2 linked regions of the Homo sapiens genome follow. The protein of the gene in region 2 purifies or fractionates together with the protein of the main gene of each other region. This does not show direct contact. Each region holds a gene or a part of one and is shown on either strand. Other genes may lie near its edges.

What was found. The genes of interacting proteins can lie anywhere in the genome.
Region 1: the proteins of GALNT10 (region 2) and MGAT4B purify together in Homo sapiens (affinity purification with mass spectrometry; one large-scale study listed by BioGRID and IntAct). This does not show direct contact.

The regions. Positions count from the first base shown.
Region 1 is NC_000005.10:179,799,545-179,803,870, forward strand, and holds part of MGAT4B (alpha-1,3-mannosyl-glycoprotein 4-beta-N-acetylglucosaminyltransferase B), read right to left. Parts: exon of another isoform or gene 2,568-4,326; coding exon of another isoform or gene 2,426-2,567; coding exon 2,240-2,425; intron 2,151-2,239; coding exon 2,010-2,150; intron 1,924-2,009; coding exon 1,790-1,923; intron 1,410-1,789; coding exon 1,363-1,409; intron 1,054-1,362; coding exon 940-1,053; intron 716-939; coding exon 640-715; intron 525-639; coding exon 410-524; intron 93-409; coding exon 1-92. UniProt on the Homo sapiens protein: Glycosyltransferase that catalyzes the transfer of GlcNAc from UDP-GlcNAc to the GlcNAcbeta1-2Manalpha1-3 arm of the core structure of N-linked glycans through a beta1-4 linkage and participates in the production of tri- and tetra-antennary N-linked sugar chains.
Region 2 is NC_000005.10:154,192,934-154,198,292, reverse strand, and holds part of GALNT10 (polypeptide N-acetylgalactosaminyltransferase 10), read right to left. Parts: intron 1-5,359. UniProt on the Homo sapiens protein: Catalyzes the initial reaction in O-linked oligosaccharide biosynthesis, the transfer of an N-acetyl-D-galactosamine residue to a serine or threonine residue on the protein receptor. Has activity toward Muc5Ac and EA2 peptide substrates.

The sequences.
Region 1 (4,326 bases), about 26 Mb from region 2:
ATGGTCCAGGAGCCAGTCGATGGGCTTGTCCCGGTAGAACATGAGAATGAACTCTACAATCAGGCTCAGGTCCAGCGACTTGAACATCTTACCTGGTGGGGAGGGGCCTGAGTGGGCAGTGCTGCTCTGCCTACTTCCTTTCTCCCTGCAGCGGCCCCCGAGTCCCACAGCAAACCCAGGGGCAGGCTTCAGGCAGGTGTGGGCATAACGGGGCAGGGAGGCAGACAGGTGATGAGGGCAGACATGTCTGATGCACAGGCAATGAGAACAGGCCAGGTGGGGCTGTAGCACGCACACCAGGCAGGGCCCACCTGGGCAAAGGCTCACAGTGGACACAGTGGGACTGGGAGAGAGGATGGCAGAGGCAGGTGGGACTGAAAGGCACCGTCAGGTAAGGGGAGGGGCACACCAATGAAGCCCAGCTGGGAGAACTCCAGGATCATCCAGTCCTCTGAAGGCTGCTGCAGTGCAAAGTTCTTCATGGTGCTCAGGTAGTTGGGCTTGGCCACGATGTCATCCTCCAGCTGCGAGGTGAGCAGAGAGGGGCTGGGGCTGAGGAAGGGCACCCAGATGGACCAGACCCATCGCAGGGCAGGGCGGCGCAGGGCAGGGCAGGGCAACGCAGGGCTTGGGGCTGACCTGCACGTAGTAGATGCCTTTGGACTGCGCGTACATCATGAGGAAGCAGTAATCGAGGTTCTGTTTGGTCCTCCACCTGTGGGCCGGGGCGGGGCCTCAGAAGTTCAGACCCCTCCACCTCCATTGTGGCTCCGCAGAGAAGCCGCTGGGTGGGCAGCTTCTGTCCCCCCACCCCCATGCACGGGTCCTCCCATGGAGAATTCAGGGCACTGCAGGGAAACACCCTGGACTCAAACACCAGTAGATGGGTTCTCAGCACAGGCAGGCGGGTTGCTGAGGGTATGGGGGAGTAACTAGTACCTGACTCTCTCCTTGGGGTCCCCAAAGGACTCTCGGAGGCGGGAGAAGTCAGGGTAGAAGTGGGGGGAGGGTGAGATGACCTCCAGGAGCCCAGAATGGATCTCCGTGGGGAACCTGGGGGACGGGAAGGCCTAGTCCGTATGCAGCCTCCAGGGGCTGAGAGGGGCCGAGCCCACCAGACTGTGGCCCTTTCTTGAGGCTCACCCAGTGCCAGCCCCCCACCACCCCCTACACCCAGCCAACTGAGGTAGCAGAGCTCCAGAGGGGCTGGGCCACTTCTGCACACCCACCCCTCCCCCACCAGGTCCCTGCCTCCCCACGAGATAGGAAAGGCACTATCTCATGGGGAGGCAGGAACCTGCCAGCACAACACCCCGCACCGAGCTCTCCCGCCACCAGCTCTCTGGGGTCGCCAGTACTCACAAGGCCTTGATGTTCTCTGTCACTGCCGAAGTGTACTGTGAGTCAGTCTGTGGGGAGACCAAGCACCCTCCCTTAGCCCTGCTGCTGCCCCAAAAGGCCTGGAAGGGCTTGGAGAAGGGGCACAGGCTTCAGATGCCCCCCACGTGGAGGGAGTGAGCCTGCTGTGCTGAGGGCGGAGTAAGGGGGCCCCCAGAGACGGCCCTTTCCCTTTGGGACTCGCATGGCCAAGGACTAGGGGGTGGCGGGGGCGATGGGTAGGGGTAGAGGGTGCCAGAAAGCCCTTTCAACTTTCTATCTCGGAGCATTTGCGAATGAAACTAGCAACTGAACTTCCGACAGCTTTCTCCTCGGAATGGTTCCTGCTGTCAGTTCTGCACCGCGGGGGCTCCTCTGAATGTCCCCCAACCCCGCGTCCCGGCTCACTCGCCTCGGCGATCAGCACCACGATGACCGAGTCCTCCTTCTCCTGCGGGCTCAGCTCGGAGATGAGCGAGTGCAGAGTGTCAGTCAGGTACGAGTGCACCTCGCGCCGCACGCTCGGGATGCCCATCACCACCGACACTATGGGGGACGGAGGCCCGACGCTGGAAAGGGTGCGGGGGCCACCCGTCCCCCCACCCCGTGCTCCTCCCTGTCTGCGCCCATACCTCCGGTGCGGCCCTGGCCCACGCGCACCGCGGGCTGCAGACTGCTCTCCTTGGCCAGCAGGTGTGGCAGGTGATGGAAGACGGTGGGCAGGTGCAGCACGTGCCGGTGTGAGCCGTTCCACGGCTTCAATCGGGGGTCCTCTGGGTGGGTCGGGAAGGATCGGGACTGAGACCAGGGAACCTACAACCAGCCCGCCCCCGCCTTTTCCCCCTCCCGCCCCAGACCTCACCTGTTAGGCGGCCCCAGGTGCGATTGCCGTCTCCGTCTCGCAGCGCCTGCCTTTCTGACACGGCCCTCTTGATCTCGTCCAGCACCAGGTTGAGCTCCTTGGAGCGCTTGAGGCTCTCCTGCTCAGCTGCGTGCAACCGATCGCGCAGCGCCAGGAACTCCCGCTGGTAAACGTCCACAACGTCGCCTGCAGGTGGTAGGCAAGCCGTCACGAGGGGGCGGTCTAGAGCCACCCTACGGGCCCCTCCAGTGTGCCAGCGCACACATCTGGGTGTCCACCTCTGCAATAGCTCATTGACATCTGTTCTTGTGCCTGCCACACGTGACATAGCTGGGGTCACTCTAAAATTACACTGACACTAATGCTCATGGGGAGAAAACCAGGGGAATTAGCCCTCTTCCAGTACTCTCCCCCACCGGGGGTTATTTTATCCTCTGAGAAGGCATCTGAAGTGGAAATACGATTTCCAGACCTAGGTAGGTGGATCCTAAGCAAGGGCTGGAACAGCCTCAGACTGAATCCGCTCCATCCGTTGGCCTCCAAAGCCCACTCTTGCTTTTTGCAGCACACGCTCCCTCCAGCGGGTGGGCTACCCAAGGTCCTGGTGCTAGCTCTTCACTGTCCTTGTAGCGGTCGCTGGTTGCTCACCCTGCACTGGATTCTTAGCCTCACGATGGCCCCGGGGGGTGGCTGCTGCAGTTCCAGGAGCCCACCTCACTTCATTGCTCAGGTGAGCAAATGAGGTTGAGAAACCGGCCCTGGGGCTGCTCAAGGACAGTCAACAGCAGCGAGGGGACTAGCTCTGAACGCCCTGGTGCCTGTGTCTCTGGAGACCTGTGCTGCGCCTGGGGCACCCTGAAGGGTCCGCATGCCACCCCAGGGGGCCCCTGTCAGAACCTCCAGCTGGGCCCAGGCATGAGGGCTGTAGGTGGATGGGGCAGCACAGAGGTGGGGCTGCCCGACAGTAGAGAGGCACCACCAGTCTGGCAGGGACCAGTGAGCAAGAATGAGATCAACAACCTCCTGGTGGCTCGGTGCCCACAGTCCACGCAGCAGGACGCTCCAGGCCTCTGCCAGGCGAGTCTCTGAAAACCTATGTGGCCTACAAGGCCTTCTGTTTCCAAGTCTCCAAGTTTAAGAAGCCTGACCGAACTCCCTCTACACTCAGGCAGCTCTTCCATTCCTTGATCCTTGGTGGCTTCACAGACCCCAGAGTTGCGTGGGATGGCCTCACCCCACCAGCAGCCCTGTGCATGATCAAGGTCATGATCAGGCAAAGTTCAGTCACCTCAGGGCACACCCCTTTCCGAAACGGGCAGGAGGTCGAAGTGCCAAGTGACCAGGGAAGAGGAAGGGGTGGACCTGGGCAGGAGGGAAAGGTTTAAGGAGCAGGGAGCCAGGTAGATCTTCCCTGAGGCATCTCTTACCCAAGAAGCCAGCCCCCACCCTCCACACCCTGCCTCTCTGGGGCTAAAGGCTGAGGCAAAGCGGAGCCTCTGGACAGCCCCTGGCGGGAGGGAAAGGGGAGTCAGATTACTGGCTCTGCCAGGCTCCACGCTGGGCTCAGGGGCTCGGTTACCCTGGAAACCTAACCCCTTGAATGCAGAGCTGGCTATCCCCAGGGCTCACCCATTGCTGGGTGACACCAGGTGTAGGCAGCACTCGCCCACAGGGATGGGACTGGAGGTGCAGAGGCCTAGAGAGCCATCAGGAATGGGTTCAGAGCCACCTGCACCTGCAGGTGCGCCTCCCTCCTGCCTAGATGCCAGTCCCCGCTTGCCTACTTACAGCCACTGCCCACCCCCACCCCCGAGCCCCACCCTGGCTTTCTCTGTCCCACACGACTGCCTCAGATGGACAGGCTGGGTGGGCAGTGGTGGGTGATGCTGCCTGAATCACCCTGGCAACAGCCTGCGCCTTACCCTCGCTTCCTTCCTAGGGGCCTCCCCTCTCCCCCGGGTCCTGTTTACCAGGAGATAAAGGGCCCCACGGGCTCCCGCCCACACCAACCCTTCTGTCATTTCCCTACACACTGCAGGCCCTGGCCCTGGGCAGCCTCCCCCGCCTGCCAGCTCCTCCACCCGCCT
Region 2 (5,359 bases):
AGAACTCTCTGCCACAGTTAACATTACTACCATTTTACAGACCAAGAATTCCAGGCACACAGGTCAAGCTTGCCCAAGCCTCGGGTTTTGAATCAGGCAGTGTAGCTCCAAAGCTAGAGCACTATACGCAGCCCCACATGCCTCAAACCAAGAGGAACGGAGACAGGAGGAGGCTGAGGTAGAGGTTTCTCTTCCAGCACACACCACCACCACATGACCTTATGTGCTCCACTTCAGCTACTGAAGAGGCTGTCTTAGGGCAATGGTCCCTCTCACCTGCTCAGATGTCCAGGCTTGCAGGAAGGGCTTAACGGGCAGGGGTGGAAGACAGGTCCTTTGTCCTGCTCAGATATGGAGGAAGTATGGTGGTTAAGGACTCAGCACTAGGTCAGAGTTCAAATACCAGCTCCACCACTACAGGCTGTGCATCCTTGGGCAAGCACCTGCCCCTCTTCGAGCTTCAGTTCCCTCCTTCTTTCCTACCTGGTTACAACAATATTTAACAGATGTACAGGTAAAGGACCTAGCAGAGTAAGTGCTAAATAAATGGTAACTGCTATTACTACTATTAACATTATCAACCTCATTATCAGCCATATCATCATCATTCTTTGGATCAGTATCATTTTATGCTGTGGCTTTCATCACCTGAGAAAACTGAAGACAATTTAACATCTGAAGCTCAGCATTCTCTTAAAGCCATAGGGAAGGAAAAAAATAGGCCTGCTTTTTTCTTTTCTCTCCTATCTACACTCAGCAGAGGGCAGCAAACAGGAACCATTCAAAGATAAGAGGGAGAGAAGAGAGACACATGGAGAGAAAGCTACACACGCATAAATACACACCCACCCACCACAGCAAGCAGAATTGTTTAGCTTCCTCTAGCTTCCAAAGTATGAACACTCCACCTCCTCCAGCTAAGAGGGCCAGGCAGAAAAAACGTGGAAGCTGCAGAGACAGAAGTTCTTTTTCAGCTTGAGAGAAATTTTCAATGAATTGACTTTTAGTGTGTATGGGGGCAGGGGAGACAGTTCTCGGGACGTCTGTGAGGGGAAAGGAAGGCAGCGGCAGAACGGGTAAGTAAGATTCAATAAAGACAGCTTTCAATTGCTCTTTATCTCCACCCTCCACTGTGTGTTGGCAAGCATTTGCACCCAAGCCGTCCTCAGCAACAAACTGAGGTCCACACAGCTAATCATCTCAGCCAAGGGGTGGCAGTGCTGGAATGAGAACACAGACCTCCAGACTGCAGGTTCGGTGCCCAAAAATGGGTCCAGGGTGGCAAAGGGGTTTTCTCTCCAGGACCAAATCTCATCCCCAAGGAGTGATTACTGCCTGGAACACTGTGTCAGCAGGACTCTGGAGTGGATATTTGTGGGCTTCTTCTCTAGATATCTTTCTCCTCTTCCCAAAAGCAGCACCCAGAGTCTTCTCTGGGGAACTGCTCTTCTTAGATCTGGGTAACCTGACTCCACTCCTAGCTCTAGGGTACGTTAAGTCAATCAATACAGCTTCTCCTCCTGAAATCTGCGAATGGTTCAGACAGCACATTAGATCCAAAGTAGACCGGTAAGACCTAAGATCTTGCTAGAGCTTATAGAAAAGATGTTCTCTGTCTTTTGTAGAAGCTACCAGAGGAGACAGACCCTCTCCTCTAGGATCTAGGTGTGGATCTGAGGTCTGAAAGAGCTATTACCATTTTTTGCTGCCATGGAGCCTCAAAACAGAACAAAGCCAACACACAGAGAAAGTCAGAACCAACAGAAACCAGAGGAAAGGAGACCGAGCCCTGACAATGCCACAAACCTCTAGATCACACCATACCTGAAGCCAACTACAGTCACAGGAGCCAATATATTCCCTTACTCATTTCAGCCCACATGGCTCAATTTGTTTTGTTACTTGCAACTGATAGAGAATCTGAGGTGGTTCTTAGGCTCAAGTTCTCTCTGTCTGTCAGGGATAGCAGTAATGGTGCCATGTACTTCCCAGCCTTTAATTCCTCTACTCTTGTCCCTTTGCCACCTTAAATTTTAATCCATTTTAGTTGCTTTTAAAACTATAAAATGAGGCTGGGTATGGTGGCTCACGCCTGTAATCCCAGCACTTTGGGAGGCTGAGGTGGGCAGATCACCTGAGGTCGGGAGTTCGAGACCAGCCTGACCCACACGGAAAAACCCCATCTCTACTAAAAATACAAAATTAGCCAGGCTTGGTGGCGCATGCCTATAATCCCAGCTACTTGGGAAGGCTGAGGCAGGAGAATCACTTGAACCTGGGAGGTGGAGGTTGCGATGGGCCGAGATCACGCCATTGCACTCCAGCCTGGGCAACAAGAGCAAAACTCCGTTTCAAAAAAAAACAAAAACAAAAACAAAACACTATAAAATGTTGGAAAGAAAATGTACAAAAATAGATCTACAAAAAAATAGCCAGATAGGTTCCAGCAGATAATTGGTCTCATTAAGCAGTGGCCTCCAAAATTTGGGGTGATAATCTTGGCTCCTGAAAGAAATAATGGTAGAGAAGGATCAAATATTAGTATATGGAGGGAAAAAATTTCTCATGGTGAAATAGAACAAGAACTTGGAGAATGGATTCTGATCTGCGTTCCTCCCTATGGGAACTTGTTTAATTTGTTTCCCTTTTTCTCGGCCTCAGTTTTCATACCTACAAATTGAGGAGATTGGACTAGATGACTTCTGCAGCCCCCTGCCTGCTCTGATATATTTCAATCATTCAGCAAACACATCCTGTCTTCCAAGAGCCAAATCTTGTGCTTTGTGCTAGAGGAGGATGTGTTCCTACCTTAAGACATTTCCAGCAGGGAGGCCATGATACACTTCTTGCTGCGGGAATTCAGGTGTATATGCGCTACCTCCTTTCCCCACTCCACTGCGCATGAGGAGAAAGGTTCTCTGGAGAAACAAGACTCTTATTCAAGGCCTTCCCTTACCAGTTCTGACACATATATGGGATGCAGAGGGTCAGATATATGTAAAACACGAAACCTCTGCAAACACCGTCAGGAGCATTTAGCTGCCATGGGGCTTACTTGTAGCTGCCAGGTTTGCCTCAAGGTGCTTTTGATTCAGTGAGGAGATCCTGATGCCATCTCTGTGTAAGAGCTGACTGTGGACAAGGTACAATTAGCAAGCTAGATGGTTATCTTTTAAATGGGCTTTTGCTTTTCATTCCTGATTCCGTTATCTGTTACCGTGTCACTGGAACCAACAGATCAAAGGCTGAACATCCTTAGACTACAGCCTGAGAAAAGACATTCAAATATGAACATACCCTTAAGTTGTGGCCTCATTACAAGTTAGATACAGAGGCCTGTTTAAATATACTATCACTATTCAGATGTGTTTCCAAGCATACTCACAGAACCTCAGGATGTAAGAGTTGGAAAAGCCCTAACACAGTATCTATTCCCTACATTGCTAATGAGTTTCCATATGTCGTTAACTCTACTTGAGTAGCCCTGCTGAGAAACAGTCTGAGCCCAAGTCTGGTATTAGTAATGAAAAGGTTGATTAGCAATGTCTGCCCTGGCCATGGGAGGGGAAGCATCGTTACAATATGCATTTGCCTTTTCCCTTCTGAATCTAAGCCTCACTTAGCAGATGAGGAATCCAAGGCCCAGAGAGGTTAAACCTCTTTCCTGAGGACACACAGTGAGTTTAGGGCAGGAGAAAGGACTAAAAGCCAGGTCTCTGTTCCCAGGCCTTCCTCAGCTGGACTCCTTGGTAGACAGCAAGCCAAGAATGACAGAAAGAATGTAGGGAGCCGGATTTGTTCTGGCAAATCAACAACCCTTCCCTAGTGGCATCAGATTTCACCTGGGCATGCAGACAGAGGAGTGATTAGCAAGCTAAAGGATACTAGCCCTTCTGTGGAAAATTAAGGAAATCGTTCCAAGGCTACATTTCTATACTTAACTTTCTGATGGGCAAGGCTTCTGCCACCAGGAAGACTGAAAAAAGAGAAAAAAACATTGATTTCTGGATGTTCTAAGAATAAAGTTCAGCTCTAACACAATGAGAAAGAAATCCTGATACTTGAAAATTAAAGTCACCGGTATTCCATTATTCCACCAATTTCTATTCCACATATGCTATTTATCCAGTGAAGTCATTTTTCAACAAGAGATTATGGCTCAGAAATGAGGAGAGACTGCACTGAGTTTCTAACTTGAGCTTTTAATAACCTGTCCCAAACCTGGAATATGAAACAGACTGTTGAATTAAACCAAGATGTTAAACAGATTGGGGCTTGGAATGAGAGGGACCCACAAATTAAAAGGAAGATGTCTTCAAGGCTGGCATTTCTTGCTTGGTTTTGCAGCTTCCCAAGAAGCCAACTGTCTGACCAGATGACTGCTGAAATCCTAGAAGCATTATGTGTCCTTTATAAATCAGCTATCCCACCCAGCTCCAGAGGTACTCCCAGGATGAGCTGGCATGAGTTATGTAGACTTTCATTCTAGCAGATGATAAACACTATAAATTTGAAACTCCGTTCTTTAATCCAGTGGAGAAATCAAGGAGTTAGAGGACTACTCAAGTAGTGGATATGTTACTCTCAAAGAATCTTCTTTCAAACCCATATGGAACACATTTTTCATTTGGATAAAGTCCTGTCAGACTTCCCTCCAGAGCCTCTGCAGTTATTTCTACCAGAAGGATCAACGAGATGCTCAAAGATGATTCTCAACAATTACAAGAATGACAGGCTGAGCTCAGAACTGGTCAGCCCTGTTGAAAAAGCTCTGTATGCTCAAGATGCCAGATTTCCCAGATAGCAGCCTGGCATGTTACATGTATGTTCCAGTACACTGGGATGAGGGATGGAACACCATCACTCTGAGAAGTCAGCCTCTTTCCTCAAGGCCAGCTGACATTCAAACAACGGACTGGGGGCCAAGCCCAGTGCTCTGCATCTGTGGGAGAGTGAAACAAAAAGGGGCTGTGTGGAAATTTGGCAGGGCGTTCTTGAAAGGCAGCAGATGAATGCTGAATCCTGTAGCACCTAGAAGAGCTTATCATTGGGGAAACAGCTCCATTCTGCTGCTCCCATGAAGCAAAGAGATTTTCTTTAAAGCAAGAATAATCAGTTGGTATTCCCCCCAAACCCCCAAACCCCCTTCACCACTTCTTCCTCCTCCTCTTCATGCTATTCCAGAGAAAAAGAAATGAACAAAAACTAGATCTTCCCAGATGAGCCTGTCTATCCATTTCAGTTAGGGGCTCTGAGCAGCACCCAGCTGTTGCTCCCCTCTCTCTCCCTGCCCAAAAGTCTGCCTTACTCTATCAATACCCTCTTGCACAAGTGAGTAATTTACTTTGAAAGCTCAGGC